Linked DNA regions of Homo sapiens. The protein of the gene in region 2 interacts with the protein of the main gene of each other region in a biochemical or structural test. Each region holds a gene or a part of one and is shown on either strand. Other genes may lie near its edges.

What was found.
Region 1: the proteins of NOD2 (region 2) and IRGM form a complex in vitro, tested with the Homo sapiens proteins (2 studies listed by BioGRID).

Annotation. Positions count from the first base shown.
Region 1 is NC_000005.10:150,842,396-150,849,219, forward strand, and holds IRGM (immunity-related GTPase family M protein), read left to right. Parts: upstream 1-4,125; 5' UTR 4,126-4,825; intron 4,826-5,313; 5' UTR 5,314-5,728; coding exon 5,729-6,274; 3' UTR 6,275-6,307; downstream 6,308-6,824. UniProt on the Homo sapiens protein: Immunity-related GTPase that plays important roles in innate immunity and inflammatory response. Acts as a dynamin-like protein that binds to intracellular membranes and promotes remodeling and trafficking of those membranes.
Region 2 is NC_000016.10:50,717,588-50,724,614, forward strand, and holds part of NOD2 (nucleotide-binding oligomerization domain-containing protein 2), read left to right. Parts: intron 1-2,337; coding exon 2,338-2,421; intron 2,422-5,034; coding exon 5,035-5,118; intron 5,119-5,713; coding exon 5,714-5,797; intron 5,798-7,027. UniProt on the Homo sapiens protein: Pattern recognition receptor (PRR) that detects bacterial peptidoglycan fragments and other danger signals and plays an important role in gastrointestinal immunity.

The sequences.
Region 1 (6,824 bases), on a different chromosome or scaffold from region 2:
CTCCTGCCTCGGCCTCCTGAGTAGCTAGGACTACAGGCACGCACCACCATGCCCAGCTAATTTTTTGTATTTTTAGTAGAGACAGGGTTTCACCATGTTGGCCAGGATGGTCTCAATCTCTTGGGCTCATGACCCGCCCGCCTCAGCCTCCCAAAGTGCTGCGATTACAGGCATGAGCCACCGCACCTGGCCGAGTTTATTTTTGTGTAAGATGAGAGCTGAGGATCCAGTTTCATTATTCTACATGAATTATCACATTGATTTTTCCCGCAGCCTTTTCTGATAATGATCAAACAGAGGAAAAGCCTGGGATTTGATCCACATTGTTTTCCGGGCACATGGAGTTCTCTGATGCACCAGCCTCCACATCTGTGCTAAGGCCAGGTCTTACTTTGCTATAAGTACCTTTGTTTGGGGATCAAGATAATTGGCATGGAATTAACTATATATAACCTCACATGGGAAATCTATTAATCTGTGTTCTTCATTCTGCATGTTTTACTCATGAAATTAATTCATTGGATTATGACCAGCATTAAAAAACAAACAGATGAAAAACATTCATAGAATGGAATAGGAGTTATAGGGTGTATTTAAGGCAAATTGTTCTGTAATACCTCACATTCACCTGTGTGCAGGTATTTGTGTGCATGTGTACTTGGTTCCTATATGCTCACTTAGTAAATTTAGGAATATGCTCCTTCTAGGATCTGGTTCTTTTTTTTTTTGTATGGCTGCCACTCTGTAATTGAACCTGGTTCCACGACTCCCTTTAGAAGGGCCTCCTCCTCCTCTTCCAAAAGGACTCCTCTGCCCCTGTCTGGAGGAAGGTATCTGGCAATATATCTGGGCAAGATATTCAAAGAGCTGAGCTTGGAGCAATTGTAACCCAGGCTGAATTCTGATGACCTCTTCTAAACTTCCAGGTCAGTGCTCCTGGAGGCTCACCCACACAAACACATAGGCACACTAACAACACCTGGAAGACACACCAACCTCATGCAGAGGAAACCATACCCTCACTGGCCTGGCAGTGACACAGGGGCCTGGGCAGGCATAGCACAGAAGAGTCCTGGTGTAACTGAGATAAAGTATCTCAATTGTACAAATAATTATTTTCGGCTCGGTTGTCTCTAGCGTGCAGCTGGTGAGCCTTCACCATGGGCCCAGGAGAAGCGGATCATATGAACAAGGCCTGGGGATGGGACAGTTGAGCTGGGGCTGCAGGGGCTAAGGCTGTTTCCCATGGGGCTCAGCACTGGTGGACAGGTAAGCAGACAGGTTTGAAGATGCTGGCTCAGTTCACAGACATGGTCACAGAAAAAGCCTGGAAAACTATAGGGTTTTCTGCTGACCTCCCACACTCACCATGGACAGTCAGTACCCTGCACTGGCCCGTGTCGTACCCAAGCAGAGTGTGCTTGAAAATTGGATGTATATTAGTAGACCCCGTGCTCAGCGGGTACAGTTTAGAAAGGGAAGTTAACTTATCTGTCAATTAGTAAGTTAACAACACACAAAGTGTACTATGTTTTATTAATCAAACAAAAATATGTTTAACACCTGCTGGGCACAAGGAGTACAATGGTAAAGAGTTTAATGGAAATGTTTAATGGTTAATGCCAAGACCTGTGTATGTATTAATATGATGCCAATCATTTAATACCTGATGAAGCAATAGTTTCTGGGACTACTTGGGTTAGAAAATGGGCCTGCCACAGGCCCAAGCCCATCCCCTACCCTGCATGTGCTCCTGCTCCACTCCCTTGTGCATCTATCCGGTATAATGTTGTGGGGAAGGGGAGTGCTCGATTCCTCACCTTAACCAGCCTGCCAGCTATCCATGCAGAGACATGTGGGCAAAACTCCTAAGGCCAGACCTCCCCACTCCATTCTCCTGCTAGGCTGCTGAGGGACTCCATTCGAACCTGGTAATTACCCTGCCTCCTTCCCTCCAGATTCCATAGGTTACCTCTTCCTCTTTGCAGACTAACTAAAAGCCACCATATCTAAGTAGCATTTGATGAGAAGAAACTAGTTATTTATGTAAACCAAAATAATTAATGTTACAACGGAGAAACTTTATATAGCAGCCACAGATGAAGCCTGGCATGAGGAAGTCAATGATCAGTTGCTGCTCTCGCCATATGGTGGGTTATAAAATCTTCCCAAGACAAGTGAGGCACCGAGAAATTGAAGACTCATATACATTCCAGAGAACAGGGCCTCTCTCATCCATCTCCTCCATTAGGGCCTTTCTTCATATTTCATAGATAGACAGCTGGAGCCAGTTCTCTGCTTCCTGGGCCCTCTAAAAGGGCCAAAGACTTGGACAAATCCATTGTCCTGGGCACTCAGGAGGCAAGATTCTGTGTGTGCATGAGTGTACGAACATGTGTCATGTGAGAGAGTGTGTGGGCACTGGGCACACGAAGCATGAGGGTAGGTGAGTGAACATGTGTCAGCCTACATGAGTGTATATATATGTGCACAGAGTGTGTGAGCATGTGTGCATCAAACATAAGTTTGTGTGAACGTGGCACCACGAGTGAATTTGTGTGTTTGTGTGTGGGGTAAGTGAACATGTTGCAGCCTGAGTGAGCAAGTGTAGTGTGTGCAACAGGGATGTATGTATTCATGTTTACACATGTCAGCTTAAGTATGTTAGGGTGTGTGAACGTGTGTCAGTGTGAGTATGTGTGGGCCTGTGCACAGAATGCAAGTAAGTGTATGTGTGCATGCCGAGGGTGAGTGAGAGTGTGTGTGTGGGGGGGTAAGTAAACATGGCTGGGCATGGGTGAGTGTGCACACCAGGTATGAGTGGCTGTGTGCAGTGTTGTGTGTGTTCACAATGAGTGTGTGAAACAGACCTGCCAGGCCATGCTAGTGAGAGGTGACAGCATGCTGGCAGCCCTCGCAGCCCTCGCTGGCTCTCGGAGCCTCCTCAGCCTTGGCGCCCACTCTAGTGGCACTTGAGGAGCCCTTCAGCCCGCCGCTGCACTGTGGGAGCCCCTTTCTGGGCTGGCCAAGGCCGGAGCTGGCTCCCTCAGCTTGTGGGGAGGTGTGGAGGGAGAGGCACGGGCAGCAACTGGGGCTGCGGGCGTCGCTTGCGGGCCAGCACGAGTTCCGGGTGGGCGTGGGCTCAGCGGGCCCGCGCTCAGAGCAGCCATCCGGCCCCGATGGCCCCTGGCAGTGAGGGGCTTAGCACCTGGGCCAGCAGCTGCTGTGCTGGATTTCTCCCCGGCCTTAGCTGCCTCCCCGCAGGGCAGGGCTTGGGACCTGCAGCCCGCCATGCCTGAGCCTCTCTCCCCTGCCCCACTCCGTGGGCTCCTGCACAGCCCGAGCCTCCCCTATGAGCGCCGCTCCCTGCTCCACGGCGCCCAGTCCCATCCACTGCCCAAGGGCTGAAGAGTGCAGGCGCATGGCCGGGGACTGCCAGGCAGCTTCACCTGCGGCCTGGTGCAGGATCCACTGGGTGAAGCCAGCTGGGCTCCTGAGTCTGGTGGGGACTTGGACAACATTTATGTCTAGCTAAGGGATTGTAAATACACCAATCAGCACTCTGTATCTAGCTCAAGGTTTGTAAACACACCAATCAGCACCCTGTGTCTAGCTCAGGGTTTGCGAACACACCAATCGACCCTCTGTATCTAGCTAATCTAGTGGGGACATGGAGAACTTTTGTGTCTAGCTCAGGAATTGTAAATGCACCAATCAGCACCCTGTGTCTAGCTCAGGGTTTGTGGATGCACCAATCAGCACTCTGAGCCTAGCTAATCTGGTGGGGACTTGGAGAATCTTTATGTCTAGCTAAGGGATTGTGAATGCACCAATTGGCACTCTATATCTAGCTCAAGGTTTGTAAACACACCAATCAGCACCCTGTGTCTAGCTCAAGGTTTGCAAATGCACCAATCTATACTCTGTATCTAGCTAATCTAGTGGGGAGGTGGAGAACTTTTGTGTCTAGCTCAGGGATTGTAAACACACCAATCAGCACCCTGTCAAAATGGACCAATCAGCTCTCTGTAAAACAGACCAATCGGCTCTCTGTAAAATGGACCAATCAGCAGGATGTGGGTGGGCCAGATAAGAGAATAAAAGCAGGCTGCCCGAACCAGCAGTGGTAACCTGCTCAGGTCCCCTTCCATGCTGTGGAAGCTTTGTTTTTTTGCACTTTGCAGTAAATCTTGCTGCTGCTCATTCTTTGGGTCCACACTGCCTTTATGAGCTGTAACACTCACCGTGAAGGTCTGCAGCATCACTCCTGAAACCTGTGAAACAACGAACCCCCCGGGGAGAAACGAACAACTCCAGACTCGCCGCCTGAAGAGCTGTAACTCTCACTTCGAAGGTCTGCAGCTTCGCTCCTGAGTCAGTGAAACCACGAACCCACCGGAAGGAAGAAACTCTGAACACATCCAAACATCAGAAGGAACAAACTCCGGACACGCAGCCTTTAAGAATTGTAACACTCACCGCGAGGGTCCGTGGCTTCATTCTTGAAGTCAGTGAGACGAAGAACCCACCAATTCCGGTAGGAGTAGGAAATCACATCACCTTCTTTTAATCAGTCTCAAATACCTGGCCCCTTGTGGAACCTGCAAGAGCCAGGTTTGGCGAATGCAATGATAAGCAATTGTCTAATCACTGCCTTGAAAAAGAGCAGAGCATTTGAGTATGCTGTCTCCTCCTCTCCCTCACTTCAGTTGGGCCCAACATGACAGTCTTAATGGAAGCTCGGGGGTCAAAGGCTGGTGGCTTACTTCACGTATATTGCAGCATTTCAGTACTGCTCTGCACGTGTGCTCCCCCGCCTGATGAGGTAAGTGTTAAACAGGGATGATCACAGCTTCAAGTAAGCAATGGGAATTGGATGTTTTATGTCCTCTGGCGCCATCTTCAGCAGAGAAATATATAGGTCACTTTTACTTGTCTGGTTTTGGTCTTGAAATATGTACTGAAACTTGTGAAGGAGCAGACCTATATTAGGATAGAGTAAAAGAGGGAAAGACAAAAACCTCTTGGGCTTTTCAGGAGACTTGGTTCATTCTCTGCTTTTCAAGCCATCTCATGGCCACATGCCTGCTTTGGAGGCTGACTCGGAGGCACAACCGGCCTCAGGGCGTTCCTCAGGGACCCTACCTTTCTTGCTCCCTGAAGAAATGTGCACATTGCTTGAATAAAAACAATCAAAGAACACTCAGTCAAGATCGTCTGCTGCAGTCTTCGTTGAGGGCTGGGGATGCTAAAAGTCAGATGATTCATGTGTACCCTGTCCATCCTAACTCACCTGCTCTTCTACTTCCGCAGCTTACTCCAGTGCCCACAGATACGACAGAGTGTCCCAAGTGCCCCTCACACTCTATTAGCTGCATCCTTAACCTCTTTTTGCCACACCATAAGCATTGGGTTTTGTTTGTTTTGAGATGGAGTCTTGCTCTGTTGCCAGGCTGGAGTGCAATGGCGTGATCTCAGCTCACTGCAATATCTGCGTCCAGGGTTCAAGCGATTCCCCTGCCTCAGCCTCCTGTATTAGCTGGGACTACAGGCGCACACCACCACGCGCAGCTAATTTTTTTGTATTTTAGTAGAGAAGGTTTCACGATGTTGGCCAGGATGGTCTCAATCTCCTGACCTCGTGATCTGCTCGCCTCGGCCTTCCAAAGTGCTGGGATTACAGGCATGAGCCACGGCGCCTGGCCAGCATTGGGGTATTTTATTGAAGATGGAAGCCATGAATGTTGAGAAAGCCTCAGCAGATGGGAACTTGCCAGAGGTGATCTCTAACATCAAGGAGACTCTGAAGATAGTGTCCAGGACACCAGTTAACATCACTATGGCAGGGGACTCTGGCAATGGGATGTCCACCTTCATCAGTGCCCTTCGAAACACAGGACATGAGGGTAAGGCCTCACCTCCTACTGAGCTGGTAAAAGCTACCCAAAGATGTGCCTCCTATTTCTCTTCCCACTTTTCAAATGTGGTGTTGTGGGACCTGCCTGGCACAGGGTCTGCCACCACAACCCTGGAGAACTACCTGATGGAAATGCAGTTCAACCGGTATGACTTCATCATGGTTGCATCTGCACAATTCAGCATGAATCATGTGATGCTTGCCAAAACCGCTGAGGACATGGGAAAGAAGTTCTACATTGTCTGGACCAAGCTAGACATGGACCTCAGCACAGGTGCCCTCCCAGAAGTGCAGCTACTGCAGATCAGAGAAAATGTCCTGGAAAATCTCCAGAAGGAGCGGGTATGTGAATACTAATTCCTGTCTTCATTAAACATTTTCCATCTCCTCCTATTGATTCCTTTTCTCCTTTATTTCACTGGACTCATTGAAACACACCTGGTGCAGAAGGGTATCTTACAATTTTCGGGGGCATGTAGAGAGTGTGGTTGTGTTGTTCTTTGAGATCTTTTGAGTGTTGGGGCCAAGATTCCCAGGCAAGGCTGCTTGCTTCGAAGGTCCTTTCCCTTCACGGAACTCTCCACCAGGTGCTAAAAATGATCAGTGTCTTAAAATGGATGCAAGATTATATCATCAGGGTCCTAGCACTCTCAAACTGAGTCATAATGAGGGTATTTTCAAAGGTGTGGACAGGGTGCAGGGAGACCACCAAGACAAAATGTTAACCCCACGGTATAACCTCAAGGCAAGTAATGGTCGGGAGGAGCCCTCTCCAGGTTCGAACAGGCAAGTAGAGAGGCAGGTTGCTTGAATCTCAAGATGGAGTTTATCAGTAATAATAAAGACTTCTGGGCTTAAAAACACACAACTGAGATCTACAACAAAACCTCTAAAACAGAAAAAATAG
Region 2 (7,027 bases):
CAAAGTAAAGAATTGCTTCCATCTATTCTTTTACCTCTTGGGCTGGGTTTGTGGATGGGAGCCGCCATTTTAAAATGGCGGGCCACATAGCTCAGTCTCGGCAAGGGCTACTGAGATCAGAACCACAGGTGCCAATTTGTACAAAGGACTCAGTCCTGCTACCACTGCCTGATCCCTCAGACTCACAAGCCTGGAATAGGCTGTGGCCAGACCTGGCTGGCCCATCCCTGAGAAGGGTGCTAGTTTCAGAAATGGAGGCTGAGTTTGTGGCCAACACAGTAGTCCTCCGGTATGTGCAGGAGAGATGTTCTAAGACCCCAGTGGATGCCTGAAACCATGGAGAGTATCAAGCCCTACACATACCATGCTTTTCCCAATACCTACACACCTGCAATAAAGTGTAGTTTATAAATTAGGCACAGTAAGAGAGTAATAGCAACTCATAATAAAATAGAACAATTATAACAATCAATGTACTATAATAACACTATGTGAATGTGGACTCTCTCCATCTCCCTCAAAATATCTTCTTGTACTGTACTCACCCTTCTTCTTGGGAAGATGTGTGGTGGTAAAATGCCTGTGTGATGGGAGGAAGTGAGGTGGATGACGCATGCAGCACTGTGCTCTAGCGCTGGGCTGCTGTTGACCTGACCACACTTCAGGAGGAGAATCATCTGCTCCCAGAGATCCCTAATCTTTGAGCAACAATGAGGTCGGCAGCTGGATGTCAGGAGCAGACGATCTTGATGATTACCAAATGGGAGCGTATAGAGCGTGGATGCGCTGGACGGGGGGCTGATTCACGTCCTGGGTGGGATGGAGCTGGATGGCACGTGATCAGAATAGCATGCAATTTAAAATGTATGAATTGTTTATCTCTAGAATTTTCCATTTAATATTTTTGGACTGCAGTTGATTTCAGATAACTGAAACCATAGAAGGCGAAGCTGCGGATAAGCAGGGGGCAGGGATTACCGTATATCATTGTAATAGAGAGCACAGGCTCTGGAGCCAGACTGCCCGAGGTTTGAACCCTCATTAGCTGCGTGACCTCAGGTCAGCCCAATGTCTGTGTGCCTCCGTTTCCCCTTCTGTAGAATGGAGGTAATAACCCTGGCTACCTCACAGGCTGTAGTGATGAGCAAGCAAGTTAATCCACATGAAGGGCTGCACCGTCTGGCAGGGGCTTTATATAGTAAGCGAGTGGCTGAAAGATGATGGGTAAATCACACAAGCACTCAGCTTGTTTCTCCTTATGTGAGTCCGGTCCTCCAAGCAGGGATTCAATGTGCCACCCATTTATTGGGGAAAAGTCCTAAAAGGGGAAGTGGGGAAGGGAGCTGGGGGAGGCTGGGAGGTGTGTCCCTGAGTGAAGGAGAGAGGGAAGGAAGGAAGGTTGAGACTGGGCACCTTGGACTTCAGTGCAGTCCTAAGACATCTTGGCAAGGCTGATGAGGAGTTCTTGAACCAAATTCACCAGGCAGGGGAGCCTGATGTCTCAGGCAGGGGCTGGCAAGTGCAGATGCGAGGATGTTAGATTTTGGAGCACAGCAGCTGGGGCCCTTGGCTACCTCCAAGGAGCTGAGGCTGGAGACCTGAAAGGCGAGTTCTCCTAGCTGCCACACCCCTTCTCCAAGGATACAATAATATCTGCCTTATAGGATTGTTGTGAGCTGAGTGGCTTGACGTTCCTTGAAAGAATGAAAGCGTATAGTTATCCCAGGAAGCCTAGGGTTGCAGGTGAGAGCTCTGGGGCTTCTCCGAAGCTCTCCGAGGTGTCTGGATTCAGTTGCAGCAGGAGCCTTCCTTGCTGGGATCTTCCCCCACCCCTAGCCTTGGCCCTCCCTCTCTCCTTCCTTTCTGGAAGGCTCAGTGGGCCCCACCCCTCCCTCCAGCCACCTGGACCTGCCCAGCGCTCTTGTGCAACAGGTAAAGCCTACCTGTAGCAACAACAGATCTGGGAAGGCTGCAGAGGGCACGATGGGGTCTGGATCGAGGGCGGCTGAGACCAGAGGGAAAGGTGTGACCCTGAGTCACCCTCGCTGTCCCGGGGAAACCACCTCCCAGGACAGCTGCCTACTGTGGCTCCTGCCTGGAATTGTCACACTGCTGTGCAAACAGCGTCCCGCTGCCCCTTTCCCTTTGCTGGGGGAAAATGAAGTTGTGGGAGCCGCTGAGTAAACTAGACCTAGCAGCGAGGGCACCTGATGTGGCTGCTGCCTCCCGGGCAGGTCTTCAATGCTTTCTTCCTGTGTTTCCCTGGCCAGGGCACAGACGGCCCTCCTTTTCTGCCTGCCGCTGTGTTCTCTCAGCCTCCTCTGTCTTCCCTTCCAGGCTGGGGAATAACTACATCACTGCCGCGGGAGCCCAAGTGCTGGCCGAGGGGCTCCGAGGCAACACCTCCTTGCAGTTCCTGGGGTAGGTTGGATTCCAGGAAGAGGGACCTGCATGGAGGGGCTTGGGACTTTTGAGGATTTAGGGGCAGGTGAAACTCTTCAGCCAGGAGGCCCCAGAGGCAGCCCAGCTCCAGTGGGGAGGACAAGCCAGGGAGAGAGTGGGCGGCCCTTGACTGCCACCTTCATACTTGGTCTATGCCTGACAAACAGGAAGTTTGGGATGTTGGGGCTAGGGGAGGACAGTGCCCACGAGCTGGTGACAGGAAGCCCTCTGATCCTCAGGGGGCGCTAGGGCTGTACTTTAGCTGCATATTAAAACCACCTGGAAGCTTCTAAACACTATTGCCAGGCCTCCCACCCCAGACTGATGAAATGCAAATATCTAGGTGCAAGGCCCAGGTATCAGGAGTTTTAAAAAGCTTCCCAGGGGATGTACAGCCAGGGGTGAGGACCCCTGACCTAAGAAAGAGAAGGAAATGGGGAAGGATAGGAAGGCACCCAGGATAAGAGGGGCTGTGCTAGGTCCCTCGGAGCTCTTGCTCCCTGTAGGACCATGCTAGGGCCTGCCAGGGAGGGGAGTACCCCAACCTGCAGCCCCAGGGTGGGCTTCCTCTGTTTGCTAGGCACCCAGGCTTGCACCTGTGCTGTTTCCAGCAGCCTCTCTCCTATCCTGTCATGCCCTAGTGTGAACTGGAGTCCATTTGACAAGAACTGGGAGTTTTAGAACCTGGGACTGTAGGAAGAGAGAATAACCTTAGGGCCTAGGTGTTCCAGCCCATTTCACAGGGAGGCAAGTTGCCCCCAAGCTCAGTTTTTTGTTTTGTTTTGTTTTGTTTGAGATGTAGTCTCACTCTGTTGCCCAGGCTAGAGTGCAGTGGCACGATCTTGGCTCACTGCAACCTCCGCCTCCTTGGTTCAAGCGATTCACCTGCCTCAGCTTCTCAAGTAGCTGGGATTATAGGCACCCACCACCACGCCCAGCTAATTTTTGTATTTTTAGTAGAGACAGGGTTTCACCATGTTGGCCCGGCTGGTCTTGAACTCCTGATCTCAGATGATCCGCCCGCCTCGGCCTCCCAAAGTGCTGGGATTACAGGTGTGAGCCACCGCACCCGGCCCCCAAGCTCAGTTTGAGCCACAAATGGGACTATGTTGCTCTAGAAATCAACATCTTTTCCACACTGCATTAGTAGCAACAGAGTCTAGAACAAAGGAGGCCACAGCCCCACTGAACTCTCTTCTGCTTGAGGTCACATCTGCCACATCAGGGGTATTTACCTCTTTCAACACATATTTATTAGGGCACCTGTCTGGGCCAGGCGTTGTGCTAAAACCCCCAAACGCTGTCATATGATACAAAGTGTTCTGTAACTTGCTTGGTTTTTTTTTTTGTTTGTTTGTTTGTTTTGTTTTGTTTTTGTTGTTGTTTTTTTTTGCTTCGCCATATATTATAGGAATTTTTTTAGGTCATTATGACCTCTTTATTTACTTAATTATCTATTTATTTATTTTACTAATATTTACAGAAAGGGTCTCACTCTGTCACCCAGGCTGGAGTGCAGTGGTTGCAATCATAGCTCATTGTAGCCTTGAACTCCTGAGCTCAAGTGATCTTCCTACCTCGGCCTCCTGAGTAGCTGGGACTACAGGCACAAGCCACCATGCCTGGCCGATATTTTTATGTTTTGTAGAGACGGGGTCTCACTATGTTGCCCAGGCTGGTCTCAAACTCCTGGGCTCAGGTGATCCTCCCTCCTTTGCCTCCCAAAGTATTGGGATTACACAAGTGAGCCACCTTGCTCAGCCTGACCTCATTTTTCAAAGAGCTGCAGAGTGTTACATAATGTATTTAACTGGTCACTTTTTGATGACTATTAAGTTGTTTTCAGGTTTTTTGTTATTACAGTGTCATATCCCTGGGGCACAGAGCAGTGCTGGCACATAGCCAGAGCTCAATCGATACATACCTAATGAATGAAAGTACAGTGGACATCCTAATTCAGCCATTCTTTGCTAACTTGTGTACATACCTGTCCAGGGTAGGTCCCTAGAATACAGTCAATAAGTCAGAAGGTGTGAGTTGGGATCTACCTTTTGGAAAGGGATGTTTTCAAACTACAGTGAGTCAGAGGAGGATGGCCCAGAAGCTGGGGGAGTTGAAGCTGATGGCGTGAAGGAATTAGGGGTGTTAGGAAGAAGCAGGAGATAAAGAGCTAGCTTGCAGAAGAAGTGTTAGACTTGTTATGGGCAGGTACTGGAGGGTAGCTAAGGACTTGTGGGTGGCAGTTACCAGGAAGCGTATCTGAACTAAGTGTCAGAAAAAGTGTCACAACTGTAAATTACTCTTGTCAGTGAGTTCCTGTCCTTAAGGGTTAGGGCTGGGTAGCCCTCTACTATTCTCTAAGTCTGTAATGTAAAGCCACTGAAAACTCTTGGGTTAAGTTTGGCCATCCCACCCAAAAGATGGAGGCAGGTCCACTTTGCTGGGACCAGGAGCCCCAGTGAGGCCACTCTGGGATTGAGTGGTCCTGCCCCTCTGGCTGGGACTGCAGAGGGAGGAGGACTGTTAGTTCATGTCTAGAACACATATCAGGTACTCACTGACACTGTCTGTTGACTCTTTTGGCCTTTTCAGATTCTGGGGCAACAGAGTGGGTGACGAGGGGGCCCAGGCCCTGGCTGAAGCCTTGGGTGATCACCAGAGCTTGAGGTGGCTCAGGTAAGCTTCAGAGTCTATCCTGCAGTTTTCTTGGGGAGATCAGGTGAAGAGGGAGGAGCTGGGGCCAGTTCTGAAGGTCTTTGAACTTTATTTCTACCCCACAATGTTAGGCAATGGAGTAAGGAAAAAAGACCATTGGATTTCAAGAGAGGACACTCGAGTCTTTCTGGGTGACTTGGAAATGTCCCTTGTCCTCTCAGGGTTTTGATACAGTATCTGTAAATTGAAGATATTGGGCTGGATCAGGTACATTTTATCTTAAGGACCAATTCCAATCCATTGGTAGTGGGTGCCCAGTGCACCACATTAAAAAGAATTCTAAGGCTGCACCTGGGCTTAAAGAAGAGCACTATAATCAATTAGTGATGTCTAAAAAAGCTAAAAAAAAAAAAAAAAGAGCACTGCATTCAATTAGTGATGTCTAAAAAGGGTAGAAAAAAAAAAAAAAAGAAAAAAGAAAGAGCACCGCAATCAATTAGTGATGTCTGAAATGGAGCAGACCAGGAGAGCACCACGAATTTTGCCCTCCATAGGTTAGCTCATCTCTGAGGTCTTTCCCTGCTCTGACATACTTTTGTTCCATGATTACCTCCAGCCTGGTGGGGAACAACATTGGCAGTGTGGGTGCCCAAGCCTTGGCACTGATGCTGGCAAAGAACGTCATGCTAGAAGAACTCTGGTGAGTTTGGGGGATTCTCTGCTCTGGGGAAGTGGATCACAATCTCTGTTGATCCCCTGGCCTCATCCATAGGAGCGGTTGTGTGGACAGACAAAGGTGGATGATTGAGTGATTGACTGATTGATTGATTGTGTTTGTCTTTATATGTACTGAGTGGTATGAAGCTTATAGAGCCTGGTATGTACATGCTAATTTTTTTATTTAATAAAATATATGGGTTTGCTGGTTTGGTGACTGCCTCCACATGGCATAAGTGTTAAGAGCACAGACTCTGTAATCAAGCAGGCCGTGATCTTAGGCAAGTTAAATAACAATTTCAGAATCTCAAGTTTCATGTCTGTAAAATGAGGGTAAGAATACTTCCAACCATAAAGGATTTTTGCAAGAATTAGATAAAGTAGTGCCTGTGAAGACCTTAATATAGTGCCTGGCATATTTGTAAGTGCTCCATAAATGTTAAATTAGAATAATGGCAGGGTTACTACTACTATTACTGCTGCTGCTGCTGCTGCTGCTGCTACAACTACTATAGTACTGTGACTACTACTACTAATAAAGTTTTGTTATTTTAAAGTGATTTTGAGTTCCTAGGAGCACTGGGTATTCAAGTCTTAGGTCATTTTGGAAGGTGTAATGGAGTTTTGATAGTTGAAAGAGGAACCATGAATCATGCTTATACTGTTGACCTGAAGCAGATTCTAAGTTTCTCATCCTTTAGATGCCACTAGTATAGTTTTCTGACATGTTCTGGGCAGCTTCAGATTATGTCAGGGAGATAAAATACTGAATGTTTGATTTTCCCGGGAAGCAGAAAGGCACTGCAACATATGGGCATTGCCATAAACAGATTTTATGGATGGACCTTGGCTGTTGCAGGGCTTACTAGCTCTACTCAAGTATGATTGATTCTATCCTGACTGGATTTTGCCACTTGGAATTTCTTAGTAGAGGAGAACCTTGTTATGAGAGCATCAGTTATGATTACTGTTAAAAGAAAAACTTTAGGCAAATTAAATTTAGCAGAACTGGTTTGAACATACAGCAATTTATGAATTGGGCAGCATTCAGAACTGGGAGTGCTCCACCCAGCAAGGTAGGCAAGCAGTATCTATAGACAGGAAAAGGAAGTGATGTACAAAACAGCTTGATTGGTTGCAGCTGGGCATTTGCCTTATATGGGCATGGTGTGATGAGGCATTTTCTTTATATGGATATAGACTGATCAGCTGG